Linked DNA regions of Homo sapiens: region 2 is linked to region 1. A link means that fine-mapping ties the variant in region 1 to the expression of a gene that starts in the linked region. Tissue or cell type: visceral fat. Region 1 holds a variant in brackets; the other region holds the start of a gene. All regions are shown on one strand. Distances are from middle to middle.

Region 1 (2,682 bases):
CTGACCTCATGATCCACCCGCCTCGGCCTCCCAAAGTGCTGGAATTACAGGCGTGAGCCATCGCGCCCGGCCTCATTCTTAAACCCAATGGGGACTTGGTAGAATTTGAAAGCTTTCTTGTGCGCTGTTTCATGAGTATGTCCAGGAAGTCCCCAGGCACAGTGGGCCCTCAGAGGACTCTCTACGGAAGCTGTCTTCATAACAAGGGAACCTCAGGGGTGAACCAGAGTTGTCATGGCCTCAGCCCTGCTTGCCCAGCTCTGGGAATAGAGCTGAAGCATGCGCACACACAGACACATGTGCACTTACACCAGACATGTACACACAAAGGAGAGTGTTTTGGTAAGAAGGAGGCATCTGAAAAGGGAGTCCTACATGGGTCTACTTTTGAAAACTCAAAGATGTGGGAAAATATATTGTTAAAAAAAAGAAAAGCCAAACCCAGCCAGCGTGTCAGAAGTGCTTCTGAGGTGGACCTTGGAAGGATCCTGGGCCAGCTGAGGTCTCCTGAGAGTGTGGGAGGTGACAGAGCTCCAAGGTGCAGGGCTGAGTGATGCTGCCAGGAACTAGGAGGGCAGCAGGGCCCGCCCGGGGCTGAGAGGTGGTTGGTGGCCACCAGCCAGGTATTTCCTAGTGTCAGGCCAGGGATAGCTACCTGTGGGGAGTGTGTCTAGCCCTCAGGGCCCTTCCATTGGGTTTTGGGGATGGACCAGGAATTTGGTGGGAGATGAGACTCATTTGGCATCTTGTTTTGGTGGAACAAATGTGTTCTGTAAGTCAGGGGAGCCCTGCATCTTCGGCTGGCAGTCAGTCCCAGGGGCAGAGGCACAGCAGGGCTGTCAGCGTTAGCTTACTCTAGAGAGAGTTAATCTCTTCAGGTGGAAAATTGAGTCATGGAGGAAGCTGATCAGTAACATGAACACACCCTCAGAGGCAGCAGATTTATTGACACATCTATCCAAGTATCAGGTATAAAAGATGCTCGTTCTTGCCACAAGGGCTTGGGTTTTAAGTGGGATTTGAATGTGATTCGTGAATGGCTGGGCTGCTAAAGTCAGACAGTTGCCCAACACAACCAGAAGGCATCTGGATCACCTCTCCTGGGCCTTTGCCTTCTCTTAGGAGGAGTCCATTTGCTTCTCACAGTTGTCTAGAAGGTAGGCAGGGCAGATGAGGTTAATAAGGAAACTGACATGAACTTGCTCCCCTAAATCCTCTCATTTGTAAGTGAAGAAGCTAGAATTAGAACTGGGATTTTGAAGAACTCTGGTTCTCTTTCCTCTACTTGACAGTTTTTGAAATTGCTTTAAAATTTTTTCTGCAAAATAGGCAAATACGGTGTACACCTATTACAATTTTAAAATTATATGGTTCATCTTATATAATGCTTTTTTCTGTATTATTATTTTTTTCTTTTTAAGATGGGATTGGCTGGGCAGGGTGGCTCACGCCTGTAATC[C/T]CAGCATGTTGGGAGGTTGAGACGGGCAGATCACCTGAGGCCAGGAGTTCGAGGCCAGCTTGGCCAATATGGTGAAACCCATCTCTACTAAAAATACAAAAAAATTAGCCGGTCATGGTGGTGGGCACCTGTAATCCCAGCTACTCAGGAGGCAGAGGTGGGAGATTCGCTTGAACCTGAGAGGCAGAGGTTGCAGTGAGCCGAGATCACTCCAGCCTGGGTGACAAGAGCGAAACTCCATCTCAAAAAAAAAAAAAAAAAAAGACAGGGTCTTGCTCTGTTGCTCAGGCTGGAGTGCAGTGGTGTGATTGTGGCTCACTGCAGCCTCTACCTCCCTGGGCTCAAGTGATGCTCTCACCTTAACCTCCTGGGTTGCTGAGACTACAGGTGCATGCCACCATACCCAGCTTTTTTTTTTTTTTTTTTTTTTTTTACTTTCTGTATTTTGTAGAGGTGGGGTTTTGCCACGTTGCCCAGGCTGATCTGGAACTCCTGGGCTCAAGCTATCCTCTGGCCTCGGCCTCTCAAAGTGTTGAGATTACAGGCATGCAGGCACAAGCCACCACACTCAGCCAGGAATACCTAATTAAACCATTATTTAATTGGGCCCCAGATCTTAAGGAGCTCCTCTGATTGTCAGAATATGGGATTGTTCTCAGAATTGAAACAGTGCTATCAAGGCTGGGCGCGGTGGCTCATGCCTATAATCCCAGCACTTTGGGAGGCCGAGGCTGGTGGATCACTTGAGGTCAGGAGTTTGAGACCAGCCTGACCAACATGGTGAAACCCCTGTCTCTACCAAAAATACAAAAAATTAGTCGGGTGTGGTGGTGGATGCTTGTAATCCCAGCTACCCAGGAAGCTGAGGCAGGAGATTGCTTGAAGCTTGGGAGGCAGAGGTTGCAGTGAGCTGAGATCGCACCACTGTACTCCAGCCTGGGCAACAGAGCAAGACTCTGTCTTTAAAAAAAAAAAAAAGAAACAGTGCTATCAAAATTGCTGATTGGGAGGCCGGCTGCAGTGGCCCATGCCTGTAATCCTAGCACTTCGAGAGGCTGAAGCAGGTGAATTGCTTGAGCTTAGGAGTTTGAGACCAGCCTGGACAACACAACAAAACCCCATCGCTACAAAAAAAAAAAAAATTAACCAGGCATGGTGGTGTGCACCTGTAGTCCCAGCTACTTTGTGGGGCTGAGGTGGGAGGAATCGCCTGAGCTCAGGAA
Region 2 (2,682 bases), 55 kb before region 1:
CAATAAATAGATGAATTCCTGGAAAGATACAACCTTTTTTTTTTTTGCCAGAGAATGGAATTCCAGATCCTGGGTTGTTAGAACCTTAAGGGATACTTTCATCCCCTGGTTCCTGTACAGGGAGGAGGAATCTGAGGCTCAGAGAAGTACAGTGACTTGTTTAAGGTCCCTCAGTGAGTTAGGGCAGAGGAAGACTTCTGGCCACAGCTTCCCTGAAGCCAAGGCTAGGCAGAGTGTTGATGTCACCCAGGCAACAGGGATGGTGCCCTCTGCCCACCTAGCAAGCCCTGACTCATGCTCCGCGCCCCTGCTGTGAGAAGTCTCTGCTGACTCCCACCCTGATTGGAGCAGGTTAGTCAGCTTTGAGGTGCAGCCTCCAGTTCTGGCCCCTCCAGTTCCGGGACTCTCATTCGAGGCATTTGGGGCTGTCTCATTTCTGTGCCCAGCACAGGGCTTGGCACAGAGGAGGTGCTTTGTGGGTGCCCGCCAGTCAAGGGTTTCCGTTTTCGTGCCATGTAGGTAACCCCTTGCCATTCGTGCCCTTAGGTAACCCCTTGAGCAGCCTAAAGAAGCCTAGAGACTTCTCCGTTTTTGAGTATATTTTATTGACGTGAAATACACGCACGGAAAAGCGCACAAATCCAAAGTGTACTTCCGCGCATCTTCATAAAGTGAACACACTTGTAGCCTAAGAACCCAACCCTACCAGCGCCCGGCAGGCCCTGGCCCCCTTCCAGTCTCTCCTACTGAACAAGGTTTTTGAGTGAAACCGGCAGGCCGGAGCGTGAGTTTCTGCTTGACGGGGCGGGGTCTGCGCGTGCTGCCCGGCCGTGAGTGTGGGGGGGCCGTGAGTGTGTACGGGGTGGAGTGGCCTGAAGGGGATTAGAGTGCGCGCGTTCGGGTATTAATTTGCCAGGGTTTGTGTGGCGCTCGGGATTGGGGGTTTTTTGGGGGCTCGGGCGTCGACTGTGGGGCGCTGCGGAAGGGTGGGTCGTCCGCGTGGGGTCCTGGAGCGCAGGAGGCGGAGGGGAAGCCGCGCAGGGGCCACTAGGGAGGGGCTCTGGCGGGGTCGCAGGGGCGTGGTCTGCGGGCGTGGGGGCGGGACCTCGGGGCCTCGGGGGCGGGGCCTGAGGGCGCGCGCACGCGTCCGGCGCGCCCCCTCCCGGCCGCCATGTTGGCTGGTGTGTGGGTGTCAAACTGAGCCAGACGCGGCGGTGGCGGCGGCTCCGCGGGCTACGGTCGCTCCCGCCTCTCGAGCGCTGCCGGTGGCCGCAGCGGCGCACCCACGCCGGCCCGGAGGAGCAGAGGTGAGCCACAGCCCGTGGGGCTCCAAGGCCAGAGCGAGTCCCCGGGGCGAGGACCCTCCCCCTCTCCAGGGCGCGGACGCCCCCAGAGCACAGGCTCCCCTACCTCACCAGCCCCGCCAGGGCATGCGCCCCTGCCGCCCCGCTGGTCCCTACGCCAGGCTCTGGGGGATCCCCTTCTTTCCAACCAGGCCCCGCCCCACGGACTGGAGCATGGCCCCCTTCCCATCTGGATCCAGCTTTCCGCTGCAAGGATCTCCCCCCTTACCCGTCCCTATCACCGAGCATCTCCTTTTATGTCCCCAGAGTCCAGGGCGCCCCTTACTCCTACCTCGGATCCTGGAGCCCCGTTCATCTTGGAACAACCCCGCCCCCTCCCCAGAGCACGTTCCTCCTCTCCCCGAGCCCGGCGCCCCTTCCTCCTGAGCCCAGCCTGGTCTCCCGCCAGCCCCCGTGCAGAGCCCGGTCCGGGCGCCCTCCGGGAATCGGGGGAGGGGTCCTTATCTCTGTCCGGGATCCCGCCCGTCTCACCTTTCCTGGGGGCTGTAGCAGGGCCCCCTTCCGTCCTTGGGGACCAGGCTCCCCACTCCCCAGCCCCCACTCCCACGGAACAGCGGGGACGGGGGCGGAAGAGCCAGGCTCCAGCTGCCTTTTGTTCCGCGTGGGATGGCAGAGACCCACCCGGCCCGGCGGTCCTGCTCGGCTGATCCGGGTGGGTGAATGGGTGCGTGGGGTCTGGCCTCTTCCAGGAGAGACTTCCTCTCTCTCCCTGTGGGGCGGCTCCCCTAGAGCCGAGAGCCGAGCGCGTTGGGAGGCTGGCCTTTGCTAGAGGAGTCGGTGCCAACAGGTTTTTGTTTGCGACCTGAAGTTTGCCCAGTGGCTTTCCCTGGGGCAGCTTGAGCTCCCTGTGAATCCCCCCGCCGGAGCTTGTGGAAGGCCGTTTCTCCGCCCAAGGAGTCCGTCTGGGCGACTCCTTCACAGTTGTGCTTCCCTGGGGACGTATCTAAAATCTGTGCTTTAAGAGCGGAGAGGGCTTAACCATCATTAGGGTTCAGATGAGGGAAACTGAGGCCCAGAACTGCAGTAATTTGCCCAAGGTCACGCAGTGATACTGTGTCAGTGCAGAACTAGAAGCTAGGTCTCCAGGCTCTGTTTACCACATTTAATAACTTTTTTATCTTTTAGGGAGATGTTCAGGACCCTACCTTCCCCTTTATTTTTAATATTTATGCAAGAAAGTGGGCAGGAAAATATGAGAAGTAATGAGTTATTCCTTTTCACCTCCAGAAAATATCCTGTGAAAGAAGGGATTGGAACAGGGTGTTAAAATGATGGGAAAAGGTGAATTTTAAGAATCCAAGCTTCCTCTCATTATGTA

Which allele goes with the higher level. Alleles are on the strand shown, and positions count from the first base shown. SD is a standard deviation of normalised expression in the study named.
In carriers of allele C in region 1, the expression in visceral fat of the gene that starts at base 1,142 in region 2 tends to be higher than with T alone (small effect, 0.36 SD a copy in GTEx).

The links. PIP is the estimated chance that this variant, and not a neighbour inherited with it, causes the effect. A credible set is the group of variants that fine-mapping cannot tell apart.
Region 2: it holds the start of EPN2, and the variant in region 1 is the best candidate, but not a certain one, in a credible set for the expression of EPN2 in visceral fat (GTEx, PIP 0.53).

The regions. Positions count from the first base shown.
Region 1 is chr17:19,291,668-19,294,349 of GRCh38, forward strand. The region is part of intron 4 of EPN2 (epsin 2); the gene reads left to right. Among named protein-coding and RNA genes, the nearest start is that of EPN2-AS1, 13 kb to the right of the region's middle. The variant C/T (reference allele first, on the strand shown) is at 1,460.
Region 2 is chr17:19,236,225-19,238,906 of GRCh38, forward strand. It overlaps EPN2 (epsin 2), which reads left to right and starts at 1,142. Exons shown (of 11, transcript NM_014964.5): 1 at 1,142-1,307. RefSeq lists a silencer at 1,050-1,519.